Regions from separate parts of the Homo sapiens genome. Here region 2 is linked to region 1. The links come from fine-mapping of genetic effects on gene expression. Tissue or cell type: testis. Region 1 holds a variant in brackets; the other region holds the start of a gene. All regions are shown on one strand. Distances are from middle to middle.

Region 1 (8,262 bases):
GCCAGTGTTTGTATGACATTTGGGCTAAGCCCAGAGGACCCATAGAGATTGTGGGGTCTCATCTGTATCCTGTCAGAGGGGTAACTGAGGCCTAGATGGGATGTGAGGTCACAAAAGAGTTGGCTCCAAGCCATGTCAGGAGGCTGGATGGGGAGGTGGAAAGAACCTGGGCTTAGGAGTTGGAGAGTACTTGGGTTTGAAGGCTGTGGATCCTTGGGTAAATCACTTAATCTCTCTGAATCAGCTTTCTCATCTGTTGAAGAGACATCACAGTGGTGGCATCTGAAAGATGTCATGAGGTATAATGTGTCTTGGACACCTAAAATCAGGACCCAGGACTAACTATAGACCTGATAATCAGTATTTATAATTATTACATTATTAGGACCCAGGTCCTATTTCTGTGCAATGTTGAAAGATAGTGATAAGAACAATTTAGATCAGAACTTACAAGTTTGCATGATCTTCATTATAAATGAAATAGTGAAACAATGCTGAGCGGATTTACAGAGGCGTAACTCATTCATTAACCAGCTTAGACAGGCATTTTCCCCCCTCTTTGGGATTGGTTTTCTCTTCTGTTAAATGGGGATAATTTTTATGCTCAACCTCTTCTCATCCATCTATTAAACATTTATTGAATGCCTATTAGGAGTCATAATATGCTTAGTGCTGAGGACACAGGAAGAGGACATAGTTCCTGACCCTAAGGAGCTCATTACCTAGTGGGACACTATTAAACAGATACAACACAGAATAGTATGTATAGAGCATGGTATGTAGCAGGGGCCTATTCCTGTCTGAGTGGACAAGGAGGCTTCCTAGAGGAAGCAACATTTAAAGCTGAGGGCTGAAGGATGAATAGGATTTAACCAAGTAAAAGTAAGAAAGGAAGTGGGGAGCTGGAAAGGGCATTCCAGGAAGAAGAAACTGCATGTGCAAAGGCCAGGAGGTCAGAGCGCACAGTGGATATGACGATGTGGCTAGCTGAGCATGTCTGTGCAGTGTCAACTTTGTTGTGAACACAGAGGGAGGCTACTGGGAAATTTTAAGCAAGAGAGTTGGAGTATGATCACATTTGCATGTTAGAAAGAACACTCAGGGTTATATGCACTTGAATGAAGTTTTATTATGGAGAGCAGTTGGAACAAGTCGATTCTTTCCTCCTCCTCCATCATCCTCCTCTTTTCCCTGTCCACATAACATGGCTCACATGAGATAAAATAACCCACACAAGCATGCCTTGTGTAATGTCTGCCACATAGTAGGTGTCCAATTATCATATAATTCCCCCCTTTTTAAATGTAGTTCCTGAAAGAGAAATCCCCTGGCATGAAGCACAAGTTGGGGCAAAAACGGTGAGGGTGTGGCTGTTTGTATCTTCTGGCTGGTGTTTGGGTATAGCCGACAGGATTTAGGTCAGAGGAAGTTCCCCAGACAGTTCAGCCTCAACCAGTCATCTGGGGTTTCAGGGAGGGCAGGTGAAGGTCATAATATCCCCCTATTTCAGGAGGCCACCCCTCCCCAGGATCCTGATCTTGAAATGTACCAGACATGGACCATTGCGTTAATTTGTCTGGGTCGGCTTCCTCATCTGTAAAATGGGTATAAGGTTACCTGTGCTGTCAGCCACATGGGGTTGTTGTAAGAAACAGAAAAGTGTGAACCACCACAAAATAATATAAGACTACATTAATTAATGGCTACCCTGGGCTGGGCCTTGTTCTGTGAAGTAGATATTATCAATTATCCCTATTATACAGATAGCAAAACCAAGGGTCAGAGAGATTATGTGAATCACCCACAGGCACAGAATAAGTGGCTGTAGCTGGAGCGCTGGCATTTTAACCACAACACTGTGACACCATGACTTGTTCTCCTTTGAAAACCACCTCCTGCTCCCTGAGCTCTTAGCTTGATGCAGTACTCCAGAAATGAGTGTAGAAAGATGGAAGAAGGAAGGAAAGGGGCAGTGTTTGAAGTCTGAGAGTCTTTCCAGATGCCTCCCTACTCCTCACCCCACCAACTCAGGGTCTTCTTCCAGATGCACTCTGGGAAATGGCTCATGGCATCCTCTTAAAATGACCTGTTACCTGACTCCTCATTAGATGGGGACACGTGGGGGAAGGGACTGTTTGGTTTGCGTTGGTATCCCCAGGGTCTAGTACAATGGCTGGCACTCAGTAAATGTTTGTGAATAAATTCCTCCTGTCATTGTCTGAATTTTCTGCCCATGCTGTCCTCTTGGCCAAGAGATCTAAAAGCAAACGAGCTGGGGCTTCTGGAAAGTCTTCCAAGGTCAGTGGATGCATGTGTGATGGAGGCCCAGCAAGAGGTCAGTGTGTTGCCCTGGGGCAAGCCTGCAGGATGGACCCAGAGGGCTGGGGTGGCCGGCTTCATCCAGCTCATTTTTCCCAAGGGATCTGGCGCTCACAGGCTGCACATAGAGCCCACGTGTTGTGTTGCGTGAGGACCCCTAAGGATTTGTTGAGTGGTCCTAGGTGCTCAAGTCACTGTACCTGCAGGGTGGCTTGAGCTGGGCCCACCTGACTGATTGGCTGGTCAATAGGTGGCCTGAGAACCAAAACTAGCCTCCAGCACATTGAGCAACCGGCTTCCTTCCTGCCCCGGGTCAGGAGCTGGGCCAGGGAAAGTGAAGAAACCTGTTTGGGGCCTCGGCAGGGTGGGCGTGGGTGGGGCCCTGCCGGGAAAAGAGGCGCCTAGACCAGTTAGTTTCCTTTGCTCCAGGACCGGATGCGGAGCCGGGACTCAGGTGGAGGCAGGAGAAATACGCACCCTGGGTGCACCTGTAAGTCCTCCAGGACTACATTGGTTTTGGCTATGACATGACCAGGGGCTCTGGGTCGGTGGTCACCGGGCGTGGGGCTTCTGGCTGCTAAATCAGGAGAGTGAGCGGGCCGGGCGGCGGCGAATGAGTTGACGGGTGGAGCTGGAAGAGGCTTTGGCGATCCAGCGGGCAAGCGAAGGACACCGCGGGAAGGGGTGGTACCCGGAAACGCAGCTGGGCAGTCGCGCCGCTCCCCTGTCCTCGCCAGCGCGCTTTCTCTTCCTGGCCCCTGCGCCTCCTCCGGGCCCCGCGGTGGCGTGAAAGGCGCTCAGGACAGACTTGTATTTGAATCCAAGCTGTTCCACCCACACGCTTTTGTTCTTGGGCGAGTGACTTCTATCTGACCCAGAGTTTTCCCAGACGAAAGTGGGAAGACGGTGCCTACCCCAAAGCGTCGTGGGAATGAAAGTCAATGAAGTGACATAGGAAAGGTGCCTAGCACATGGCAGGTGCTGAGCAAAGCGGGGTTCCCTTTCCCTTTGTTTAGCCCCAAGATCTCACTCCTAGCCCTGAAGTCGCGCCCCAAAGGCAGCCCCAGGACGGCGGGGTCTGGGAGGCAGGAGGCCTGGCCTGGCAATAACTCATTTGAATCATTTGATCCTCAAATGGGATGGGGGCGAGTGGGCGGATTCTGAGGCTGCCTTTGGAATGCGTTTC[T/A]GTGATCCTAGGAGGGAATTTCAATGCATTCTTCCATTCACGTATTTATTTATTCACAGATTCCTATCAGGCGAAGGCCGCCTTTCCTGGCCTCCCCCACAGGCCCGCCAGCGATTCGTCCTTACAAGGCTAGCCTCCACGGGCTGCCCTCTGTGTAAATAAAGCCACAGACTTCCGCCCACAGGTCGCCGCAGGTCCCGCCCGCAGCGCCGGGCCGCGGGGGAGGCGGGAACTGGTGCTACGGCCGCTACGCAGGCCTCGGGAGGCTCGGAGCCCGCCACGCCCCAGCCCTCTCGCAGGGCCGGGGAGCCACGGGGCCAAAAGGAGGAGCAGGTGGAAGAAATCCAGGCTCAGACCGTCGGAGTCCCCACCCATGAGCACCCTTCTCCACTGATCACTCAGAACATGGTAGGCCCTAGAGAGACAGCAGCCCGAATCTTCCCAGAAACCCTGCAGGAGATTCCTTCTTCCCATTTTATAGAAGGGAGGCTGAGGCTCGGCACGTTGAAATGGCTTGACCAAGGTCCCACAGGCAAAAAAATGGTACAGCAAGATATTGTAACCCAATATCTGGCTGCAAAACCCAGTCTCTCCCCAACCCACCTATCGTCACCGAGATTGTAAAACTTCTAACCGGGAAGAATCAAATACATGCACAACGGGTTACAGGTTAACAGACAGATGGGAGCGGAAAGGGACATTCCAGCGCTTCCCTGGGCGTGTCGCACAGGGCAACTCCAACCACAGGCGAATTTTCCTGGGTGACAGTTAAACTCCTTTTTGCATGAAAAAATACAGATTCTTATTAAAACAATAATCGATTAGACTATAAAACTCTCAAAGTTATTTCGGATCAAAATTATTTTCGGCTGTTTCCACACCTTTTTTTCTCGATTGTGCAGAAATTCTTCACACCGTCTGCACAGATGGGCAAACTGAGACCCGGACGAGTCCCATTGAGAGAGAGAGGCAGAGCCGGGGTTGGGAGAAGACTGAGATTTCTGGGATCCGGCTTGGGGTGTTTCCGCTGGGTGGGGGCGCCGGTTTGCGAAGAGCTTTCCTCGGACAGCTACTGCTGATTTTTGTCGCTCAGCCAGCCAAGTGGGGGCGATTCTGAGTAATCGCAGGCAATCAGCGCGGCTGGGGTTAAAAGCGAAAGGGACTCGCGGGCGAACGGCCGGGGAGGGCGGCGGGCACAGAGCCCAGACGCCGGCAAAGGCGGGGCGCCGCCGGGGTTCCCTCGGTGCGAGCGCGCGCGGCACTTCCTGCTTTTGCTCCTCCCTGCGGTCCTGCCGGCCGTTGTAAACTGGCGCTGCGGGCCACACCCGTGTTCCAGGCCCGCTAACCCACCGGCGGCCCCAGAGCCCCAGGCGGCCCCAGAGACCCAGCCTCAATCCTCAGTCCTCGTACAGTCCTCAGGTCCAAGTTCTGGCCATAGGAACGCCAGCCAGATCTGCAGCTCAGCTAGCTGAATTTCAGGTTCCAGAGACCTGGCCCTTTTCTTCCATGTAGGGGACAGTCAGGTTCTCTGGCCTGGGTTTTCTAAAAGTACCCAGAGTTGAACTACCTTCCACTCAGCAATCCCATTACTGGGTCTGTACCGAAAGAAAAATAAGTGGTTCTTCCAGAAAGACACATGAATCCCTATGTTCATCGAAGTGCTATTCACAATAGCAAAAACTTGGAATCAACCCAGGTGCTTGTCAATGGTGGATTGGATAAAGAAAATATGGCTCATACACACCACGGAACACTATGCAGTCATAAAAAGAATGAAATCGTGTCCTTTGCAGCAACATGGATGCAGGTGGAGGCCATTATCCTAAGTGAACTAATCAGGAAAAGAAAATCAAATACCACATATCCTCACTTATAAGCAGGAGCTAAACAATGGGTACACATGGACATAAAGGTGGACATGATAGACACTGAGGACTACTAGAGTTAGTGGGAGAGGGAGCAGAGCAAGGGCTGGAAAATTACCTCTTGGGTGCTATGCTCACTATCTGAGTGACAAGCTCAATTATACTAAAAACCTCAGCATTAGGCAATATACCTTTGTAACAAACCTGCACATGTACCCCCAATTATAAAATAAAAGTTGGGACGGGTGCAGTGGCTCACTCTTTTAATTCCAGCACTTTGGGAGACAGAAGGGGGAGGATGGCTTGAGGCCAGGAGTTTGAGACCCACCTGGGCAACAAAGTGAGACCTCATCTCTACAAAAAATTTAAAAATTAGCTAGGCATGGTGGCGTGCACCTGTGGTCCCAGCTACATAGGAGGCTGAGACAGAAGGATTGCTTGAGCCTAGGAAGTCGAGGCTGCAGTGAGCCATGTTCCTGCTACTGCACTCCAGCCTAGGCACTGGGCTGGACACCGTTTCAAAATAAAGTAAAATAAAAGTTGAAAAAAATATATAAAACAAACAAAACAACCCACACTTGACATTTGCTGACTATATGGCCTTGGGAAAATTACTTAACCTCAGTCTCAGTTTCTGCATCTGTAAAATGTGAGTTACTGACACTTACCTCATATAATTGTTGTGAGAAGTAAATATGTGCCTATCTGTAAAGGCCTAGAACATTTGAAAAAAAACTAATTAAATGCTATGTTTTGTTATTAGTGTTAGTTAGGCCTAGGTAGGAATCTTGTTTAGGCCACTTAAGAACTGGATGACCAGGCAGGTGTACTTTCTTCAGTTTCCCCACCTGGAAAAAGGAGTTTATTACACTTTATGTCACAGGGTGATGGTGAGGTCCCCATTATCCAGCAATTCCACAAGTGATGATGTTTGCAACTCTTACTGTTTGCCAGCACTGTCTTAAGCATTTGACCCTTATTAACTCATTTAATTCTACAATTACAGTATGAGAGAGGTATTAAGAGCATCCCATTTCACAAATAGGAAATTGAGGAACGAAGAAGTTAAATGACTTACCCAAAGTCACACAGCTACTAAGTAGGACTTGAATCTACAAAGTTTGGCTCCTTATTCCATATTCTTAATTCCTGCAGGATGTATCAGACACAATGCTAGGCAATGGGCATGCAGCCAGGAATGATACCACACACAGCTGCCTCCTCAACAAAGGCAAGGGGTTCCTTTCTGAGCTTATTGGCATTCCTTATATATGATTAAGCATTGCATGCATATGCTATATTTTATATAATAAGGTGGCTTGCACACCGTAGATATTCAAGATTGTTGGTTTCCCTCACTGTAATTTTTGGGGGTCCAGTTCCAAGTGCTTACATGGAATGTGGAGGGAGGTTAGGTTTTAAGTGATAGAGAAGTTGGTGTCTAATAGATGCTCCACATACCTAAGTTCCCTCGTCTGTGTACTTAGTGATCTTCCAGCTAAAGAGAATAAAACAGCACAGGCTTAAGGTTTAGACCTTTTAACAATAATAATAATTACTTCTGCCTTTGCAGAGTAATTCTGTTTCTGTAGAATTATGTCTGCACTGTGGGGTTCCCAGAATTGAGGGTAAATTTACTGTATTTATCACTTAATCATTTCCAAAACAGCTTATGACTATGGCATCTTTAGTCAAAGGCCCAGAATTCTCCTCCTACCCTCTGTCTTTGGAGTCCCCGTGGTAATTTTTGCTGTAAATGGCTAAAGCTATTAAATATAGTGTACATCTTCCTGCCATGGAAATATAAGCTGTCATTACATTCATTGCTTAAATGTTGTGATTATTTCAAACTTGGCTTTTGTATTTGAAGCCTTGAGTTAAATGTGGAAAGTAAGGGAGAAAACGGATAATGGTTAGAAATAAAAACGTGCAGTGGATAGGTTTCCAAAGTAATAAAAAGCCACTTTAAATTTCAAAAGATTTTAAACCTGTGTAGTTCCAGACAGAATACCCTAAATTCCCATCAAACATTGTGTCTCTATTCTGAGGGTCAGAACCGCCTTGAGGCAATTCAATGAACTCAACTGACAACAAAGAATTAAATCATTAATTTCTGCTTGTAAAAGAGATAGCCTGTGGACAACACTCAGCAGATGGTAGGTATTCACAAGGAAACTATTATGATTAGAGACAGGGATATGGAGAGAACAAAGACAGTATACTCAGCTGACATTTATTGAGCACCTACTATGTGACAGTTGCTTTCAAATCCATTATTTCAAATAAACCTCAAAATAAGGCTATGAGGAAAAGATCATATTATAGAAGAGGAAACTGACACTCCAAGACGCTTGTTAACTTGCCGAGAAAGTGAGTGGCAAAGTCTGAGTTGGAAGAAGTTGGGTCTGACTTCAAGTTCAGTATCTGATTCGCTGCACCTCTCTGCTTTTTCCCTGTATGCCCAAATGTCAGTCATTTTAGAGCTGGAGGTGAGGATCAGAGGGGACTTTAAGATCGCCTCACCCAGAGTTTCTCTGCCTCTTTTATAATCCAAGTCACCCTAGATAAACACAAAAACCTTACATCCTCTTTTAATGAGTTTCAAATTCAAAATAAGCAAAATATCATGATTCAAAACAAATCAAAGCAAGGGGACATTTTCAGTATTTTGTTTTGAAACAAAACAAGTCTTTCCAGCACTTTTGTTTCCAGCTCCGTGCCTCCACCAACCTCACTGGAGAGCTGGTGATCCTTTGCCCCCCTCCTCCTAGTCATTGACTTCCAAGGAAGTTGAGCTCAGAGCGGACTGACTGACTAGCTTGTGACATGGTCAGCTCTTGAACTCAGGTCTGCCTGACTCCAGTGTGGTATCTTTTCTGTAAACACCCTGCT
Region 2 (8,000 bases), 30 kb before region 1:
ACTCAGAGTGCTCCAAATCTCTTATTTACAAACAACACTGGGCAGGATACCCAAACAAACAAACAAGAAATAACTTACAAAGGCATGAAGCTGTTTATTGACAGTAATCAGCTTTCATCAAATTAAAAAATATATATATGTACATACACAGTTAACGAAGGCAGGCCAGAAAGAGTTCATCTGTAGGCTCAGCCTCGCTCTCACAAACCTCCCTCCTGCCGCCCCTCCCCAACCCTCCCCCCGCTTTGTGTTCTTAAGGAGTACTACAGAAGCAATCTACAGTCTCTATTGCAGTTTGTAACCCCCTCCCCCTCCCCCCTTTAATACTGAATGAGATCGAATGTTAGGTCCATGCAGTTCTTGGTCAATGTTAACGAAAAGTCCAACGTTCCGTTCGCGCGGGGACAGCCCGTCCGCAAAGCGGGGCAGCCCGCAGGCGGCCGCTCCCTGGCTCCACGCCAAGGGAGGGCGCGCCAAGTCCTTCCCACTCGTGCACACTGGGGGCGCCGTCAGGACGCAACCCAGTCCAACTTGGATACCCTTGGCTTTAGTTCTCGGACACTTCTTTTTTCTCTCCGTCGCAACTTGTCAAGTTCTCAAGTCTGTCTCTCTGTGTTATTTTTTTTCTTCGTTGCCCCTCAGCCCCCGACGGTCTCTCTTCAAAATGTTTGCAACTGCTGCGTTAGCATGAGTTGGCACCCACTGTTAACGTGGTTCATGACTTTCTGTTTAAGCTGTGCCACCTGTTCCCTGAGCATGTTGGCCGTGGACGCCAGCTCCGAGTTCTGAGCTTTCAAGGTTTTCACTTTTTCCTCCAGCCGGGCGATTCTCTCCAGCTTCCTTTTTCGGCACTTGGAGGCAGCGATGCGGTTCCTCATGCGCTTCCTCTCCGCCTTGATCCGCTCCTGGGACTCCATGTCGATGGGGGACAGGGGCGGTGTCTCGCCGGGCATCTCGGGCACTGTCTGAGGCTCCTCCTTCAGGGCCTGCAGCCGCGGGTGCTGCACGGGCATCTGCTGGGGCAGGTGGTGCGGCGGCTGCTGCTGCTGCTGGGGTTGCGCGGGAAAGGCCAGGCCGGCCGCGCCGTAGGAGGGCGCCCCGCCGCCGCTGCTCAGCGCGCCTGGGTTGAAGTTGCTGAGGTTTGCGTAGACCGGCGGCTCGCTGTGCAGGCTGGCGCTGAAGCCGCCGCTGCCGCTGCCCCCTGCCACCGAGGCTACCGCGGGAGCCACCATGCCTGCCCCGTTGACCGGCTGCGCCGCCGACGTGACGCTGGGCAGCGTGTTCTGGCTGTGCAGTTCGGCCAGGGCGCGCACGAAGCCCTCGGCGAAGCCCTCCTGCTCATCTGTCACGTTCTTGGGGCACAGGAACTGGGTGGGGGTCGGCGTGGTGGTGATGTGCCCGTTGCTGGACTGGATTATCAGGCGCTCCAGCTCGGGCGACGCCAGCTTGAGCAGCCCCACGTCGGGCGAGGTGAGGAGGTCCGAGTTCTTGGCGCGGAGGTGCGGCTTCAGGCTCCCCACTGGGTCGGCCAGGTTCAGGGTCATGCTCTGTTTCAGGATCTTGGGGTTACTGTAGCCATAAGGTCCGCTCTCGGACGGGAGGAACGAGGCGTTGAGGGCATCGTCATAGAAGGTCGTTTCCATCTTTGCAGTCATAGAACAGTCCGTCACTTCACGTGAGGTTAGTTTGGGCTGCGCGCACAAGTTTCGGGGCCGCAACAGGGCTGTGGCAAGCGGGGGACACCCGCGCCCCCCGGAGCCTTTGACAGGGAAAGTTTCTCTAAGAGCGCACGCACCCGCTGGCTGTCGTCCCCGCTGCGCCCTCCTCACCAGCTCGCTCCAGGGAGCGCAGGGTTAATTAAGATGCCTCCCGCACTCTTACTTGTCGACTCGCGCGCGCTACCCGGCTTTGAAAAGTCGCGGTCACTCACTGAGCGCTCTTCGTGCGCAGCGGTTCCTCGGAGTCCGCAGGCGAACTCACTTCCCAGAGCAGCGGCTCTCCCCGCGGAGCGGATCAGTGCGGACCCTGCAGTGGCCGGCCGGCGGCGGGTCTTGGCCGCCCGGACTCCGACGACTTGTCCCCTCCTCCGCTGCTAGGGGGAGGGGGCGCCCGGCAGCCGCGGCTCGCGCTCGCCCAAGTTCAACAACCGGTGCGAGCGAAGCTGAGCGCACGTCCTTCTTCTCTTGCGTGGCTCTCCGCCGCCTTCTGGTCTTTACCGCCGTGGAGAAGCCTAAGACGCAGGAAAGGCTTGCAAAAGTTGGCTCCGGGACTCTGCCACTTGTCTCCGGTCCTCCCAGCCGGGAAAGTTCTTTGCTGCTGCAGCCGCTCGCCGACTTCCCCCGGCGGGCGCGTGGGTACCGCTGCTTTCCGCCGCTGTCAACAGCGCCTGGGCAGCAGGGCTCTCCTCCCGGGGGCGGCTGGAGACCAGGCTCTCTGGACACTCCCGAAACACCAGCCCGGGAGCCACAGGCGCTAGCTCTGGGCAGTTAGAGAGAAGGTGAAAAGAAAATAAGATTTGCAGTTCGGACTATACTGCCGACCTGGCTGGCTGGCTGTGTCTGTCTGTCTGCCTGACTCCGCGCACCTCCACTCCCGCCTCGCTGCTTCAGCCACACTCAGTGCAACTCTGAGCCCTTATCCAGCCCGAGCTCAACACTTATCTGCTACCAGTCAACCCCTAAAAATAGCCCATGATGTCACCCCAAGGCCTTCCCATTGGCTCGCGTCGCTCTCAGGGGGGCGGGCCCGCCCGTCACCATGGAGACTCCACCCTAGAAGATTCTTCTCTGGGCCCGCGGAGGCTCACGGGATGAGGTAATGCTCCGCTGCCCTCCTACAGTCGGGCCCTTCTTTCTCCTACCCTCCCCCCTGCCGCACGCCTCTCGGCCCTCTCTTCCCCGGTCCCCTCCCCGGGCCGTTTTTCCCGGCCCGCCCGGTGCATTGTGGGCTGACGTCTTGGGGTTTGACTGTCTAGTGACGGTGGCTGCCGCGAGCGGGCGGACGCTCGCAACCTCTGATGGAGGGGGGCTCAAGTTCACGGCTGCGGACGGGGATGCGGGGGATGCAGGGACCCGGGAGGCCAGGGAACCTGGCCAGTTGTTTTGGGCCAGGGGTGCGGGCGAGGGGTGGTTGTTGTTTCCCCACTTGTGGGGCCCGAAGTCATCCACCGGCGGCCGCCACCGCGCGGGGCTGGAGGCTGAGAATCCAAGTACGCTGCCACCCCCCCGCACTTCCGGGGGGGCGGGAATACCGCCCTTAAGGTGGCTCTGTGAAGTCCCAGGTGGGGGCGAGCCTAAGGGGACTTAAGTTTAGGGGCGGTCTCCCGAGAGTCGGCCCCCCACGTTGAGAACACTCCGAAGTTTGCATCTCGGTCAAGTTCAGGAGCGACGGTCCGCGGGGTCGTCTGGCTGCTCGTAGAAGCCGAGAGATTTGTATTGCCCGAAACTGGACGCTCAGCTGAGTCTCCGTTGCACCCCACTTCATCCTCCGGGACCGTGGGGGAAAGGGCGCGGGGGTTCACAGCTTTGCCTCGGAGGGGCAGTTTTTATAGTGGGCGCAATTGGTGGGTAACAGGGTCCAGATGGGAACAAGCGTGTAGGCGATCCGAAACTCGGGGAACCCCGGTGTTAGTCTACTCCCCCTCCCGCCCCCGGACAACACGCACACGCTTAACACAACACGCACAACATAACGCGCGCGCGCGCGCACACACACACTCCATCCGCGCCGAGTTGCTTCCGGGAAAACAAGCCCAGAAGGCGGCGGACACTCGCATAAAGTCACGCAGTAGTACTCGGAGCCCGGGGTAGAACCTGGACTTCAAATCTCTGCACTCCCGGCCGGGTGGTGGGCGCATATCCTGGGTAGCCTCTAGGAAGCGCTAGACACATGTAAGTGGTTCCTTTTCCGCGGTTATTTTATTCTCCCCCCGCCCCCCACCCCTTAGGGACGAAAGTGTGTGGTGGAAAGAATCCCGAAGTCGGGAATCCTGGTTCTTTCGTGGCCAGGCTACCACAGTGTGAAGCAAGCAAATCACGGAACTCCTCCGAGCTTCATTTCCCTCATCTGCAGGTGGGGCCGGTGCCGTCCACCTCACTGGGCTGCCAGGAGTTAGTGTGACAGGGTCGCCTGCAGCACTAGGGAGGTGGTGGCCAAACAGCCCGCTTCCCTCCCCTGCCTCGCAGTTTCCATCCTCGCAGAGCCTGGATAGGATGCCAGGATATAAGAGTGCGATTTGGCAGGACCAGGTGTACTTTCCTGTGAGAAGCATCGAGGGGAGGAGGGGAGGGGGAACCGGGTTAGAAGTCAGATCTTTCCCAAGCCTCTGTCTAAAACTGGGGCTTGAAGTTGGACCTGCAGCAGTTTAAGTTCCTAGGTTCTAAATTCAGACTTCGCTGCTTCTGAACTTGGAATTCAGCCTTGGGTTCATTGCCCCCAGCCCTAAGGTATTTGCGGCTTTGAGTGTTCAGAAACCAACAGCAGCTGGTATCAGTGGGAAACCTGCCAACTTTTCTTCACTCCGGGCACTCACCTAGCTTTCACTGATCTGCAGAGGGTAACTGAAAGCCTACTGTGAGCCAGGCACTGAGCTGGGGAGGGGGTGGGGTAGGTAGGTATACAGTGATGACAAGATCCAGTTGCTTCCTCAAGGAGAGAACATTCTCCTCTGTCTGTTGCCCTGAATCATTTTCTGTTGTATTCAGGGAGTTGGTGTTCTAAATATTTTTTAATAACAGTAATAAAAATCAGTTTCATGTATTAAACACTTATTATCTGCCAGGCATTCTCCTAAGCAATTTAAATACGCTGTTTTCTCCCCACAACTGTCTTGAGAGACATATATTATTATCCAGATTTAACATGTGAGGAAATAGGCCCAGAGAGGTTAAGTATCTTTGTTGAGGTCACACAGGCAGCTGGAAATTGACCTCAGGTCTGTGTTACATTCCTTTGTATTTTCTCTACTCTGGCAAACTTTCTTGTGGAGTATTAGTTATCTGCAGAGGAAATAGCGCTTGTGGCATAGAAGAAATTTTCTTGCCTGATCCTCTGACTGTAACTCCGTTCAGAGCTCTTGTATTTAGAAATTTCAAGACTTAGGACTTTGCATAAATATATATCTTTTGCCTAAGGTTCTGTGTGTTCCTCTCTGCCTCATGTGGTTTAGTAGGCTGATCTTCTCCTTATGTTGAGAAATAGCATATTTCATCCAAAAAAATAACAAATCTGTTCATGTTAACGCCCCTGCTTGGAAGCCTTCATTGGCTTTTCCTTACAATCAGGAGAGTTCCGATTCCTATGCCTTGGAGAAGGGGCTTTTCACAATCCAACTCCTTCTCTCTCCAGCCTTATCTCTCACTCCCAGTTCTGTCAGGAAAGGCAGTGTTATGCTGCCCTAACAAACAACCCTAACATATCAGTGGCTTATTCCAGTGAAAGTTGGTCATTTCTGCTACATGACCGTTGTAGGTTGGCAGGGTAGCTCTGCTCATTGTAGTCACTAAAGGGCTCAGGCTGAAGGAGGCCTCGTGTTGATACCCCTTTTCACAGCTATCCTGACTGTGGGGAAGGAACTCGGAACATCATGGCTGTCAGAGCATCCACTTATGGCACACATCACTTCTGCCCATACATCATTGGCCAAAGCAGTCACATGGCCATGCCTCTTTAGATCACTATAATCCTACCAGGTGTCTCAAAGGGCTCTCCAGGAATATTTGGGGAATAACACTAAAGACTCTGTCTCCCTTTCTGTTCACCAAATGTTTGGTCTACTCTCCTTCCCCTGGTGGAATTCCCTCATTCTTTATTCAAGGGAAACAACCTTAAAGACCCATCCAGTCACAGCACCAAGCTGCCCTGCCCATTGTTTTCCATGACTCCTGGATTTGCCCTCGGAGAGTCTTCCTTTTCCACAGCTAAAGCAGGCATTGGAAAATATGCTTTTAAATAAGCTTTTAAAAGTTGGGGAGATGCAGAGTGACATTAAGTCTTGAATATGTGTAGGTAGGCTTCTTATCTATCTGATATGAGGTGTTCCATGTGACAATAGCCACAAAGTTCTTTTCCAGACATACTTCTTTGGTTTGCCATATCTCTTTGCTTTCCTGCTCTCCTGCCTGTTGACTCCTCTGTCTCTCTTTTGCCGTCTCACTCTCTTGCTCTTCACTTGATTTTGAGCACTTTGGGCTTATTGGGTTTTGATGGGAGAGTTAGACCTTTCTTCCTTTTCCCAGAGCCATTTTGTCCAGTTGAAAGTATATACTGGGTAAGATCTTAATTGATCCTTTTTTTTTTTTTTCTGAGACGGAGTTTCACTCTTGTTGCCCTGGTTGGAGTGCAATGGCACAGTCTCGGCTCACTGCAACCTCTACCTCCCGGGTTCAAGCGATTCTCCTGCCTCAGCCTCCTGAGTAGCTGGGATTACAGGCATGCGCCACCACGCCCGGCTAATTTTGTATTTTTAGGAGCGACAGGATTTCTCCATATTGGTCAGGCTTGTCTCGAACTCCCGACCTCAGGTGATCCGTCCTCCTCGGCCTCCTATCCTGAGGTTTTAATAGTAGGTTCATACTTTGTGACTTGATCCTTACTTCAAAGCTTAGTTTCTTCCAGGTCCTTTCTTGCTAAAAGTATTTCTTGATTTTATATTTTACCAGTCGGGACTGGGAAACAATTGCCTCTTCTAACGATGTAAATCCCTGGATTTATAGGTTTTCTCTATTCCATTTCATTCCTGATTGCAAACAGGCCAAATTTTTCTGAGTTCATCTTTGAATAGCTTGTAGTAACTTTCAGAATGCATCCAACAGCCACCAACACACACTACTCACTCTCTGTTTTACAATCCTTTTCTTTAGTTCATCAGGTTCATGATCTGCCTTCTACATTATCACAGGTGATATGTTTACCAAACAGATCACCATCCCTTCAGCTTCTGATAGCAGTGTTCTTAGTTATCGCCCTCTAAATGATTGTTTAGTTTTATTGTTGTTATGCTTATTGTTGTTATTACACTAACCCATATCTAGGAGCCAATTTTTATATGAGTCAGGATGGTTTAGGTTATGCTGCCATAACAAACAATCCTAAAATTTCAGTGGCTTAAAAATAAATTTTATATTTTGCTCATACTACATGTTCAACTTCACGGGGCTCTGCTTAATGTGCTCATTTAGAAACCTAGTCTGAAGAAGGTTTCATCTTGATACATGCTTCAACAATCATCGCATCAGTTTGGCAGGGGAAAGAAAGCATGGTGAACTCACATTGGCTTTAAAAGCTCCCTCCTAGGAATGACACTTTTTATTGTATTTACATATTATTGGCTAAAATTAGTCACATGGCCATGCCTTACTTAAAGGGTGCAGGAAAGTGCAATCCTACTAGGTACCCGGAAGTCAAAGAGCTGGAAATGCACACCTCCATATACTCTAGGTTATGCTGTGTTAGCCATCCAAAAATCTTACTGGGTTACAATCACAGAATTGTTTCTCACTCATATTGCATGTCCACTCATATGGTTTGGTTGTGTCCCCACTCAAATCTCACCTTGAATTGTAATAATCCTCACATGTCAAAGGTGGGGTCAGGTGGAGATAATTGAATCATGGGGTCAGTTTCCCCCATACTGTTCTCATGGTAATGAATTAGTCTCATAAGATATTATGGTTTTATAAATGGGAGTTGCCCTGCACAAGCTTTCTTGCTTGCCACCATGTAAGATGTGCTTTTGCTTCTCCTTTGCCTTCTGCCATGATTTTGAGGCCTCCCAAGCCATGTGGAACTGTGAGTCCATTAAACCTCTTTCCTTTATAAATTTCCCAATCTCAGGTATGTCTTTATTAGCAGTGTGAGAACAGACTAATACATCCACCATAAGTTGGCTGTGTCTCTGATTTACACACATGATCTTTGCTCAAAGACCTTGGTTAATGAAGCACGCTCTTTCTAAAACATTACTGTTATTGGCAGACAGAAAAAAGCATAGCCCTTAAAGC

Which allele goes with the higher level. Positions count from the first base shown, and alleles are read on the strand shown. Sizes are in standard deviations (SD) of each study's normalised expression.
For the expression in testis of the gene that starts at base 3,736 in region 2, allele A in region 1 goes with a lower level than allele T (moderate effect, 0.50 SD a copy in GTEx).

The links. PIP is the estimated chance that this variant, and not a neighbour inherited with it, causes the effect.
Region 2: it holds the start of JUN-DT, and the variant in region 1 is fine-mapped to the expression of JUN-DT in testis (GTEx, PIP 0.95).

Annotation. Positions count from the first base shown.
Region 1 is chr1:58,811,704-58,819,965 of GRCh38, forward strand. The region is part of intron 1 of JUN-DT (JUN divergent transcript); the gene reads left to right. LOC101926907 (a long non-coding RNA gene) reads left to right here and starts at 2,737. Exons shown (of 2, transcript XR_246327.5): 1 at 2,737-2,809; 2 at 3,565-4,339. RefSeq lists enhancers at 2,225-3,221, 3,222-4,217 and silencers at 3,659-3,858, 4,671-4,820. The variant T/A (reference allele first, on the strand shown) is at 3,506.
Region 2 is chr1:58,781,416-58,789,415 of GRCh38, forward strand. JUN-DT (JUN divergent transcript) reads left to right here and starts at 3,736. Exons shown (of 2, transcript NR_108106.1): 1 at 3,736-3,890. JUN (Jun proto-oncogene, AP-1 transcription factor subunit) reads right to left here and starts at 2,632. Exons shown (of 1, transcript NM_002228.4): 1 at 1-2,632. The coding sequence starts at 1,655. The coding sequence ends at 660. RefSeq lists silencers at 429-604, 992-1,071 and enhancers at 742-921, 2,330-3,077, 2,592-2,851, 3,078-3,823.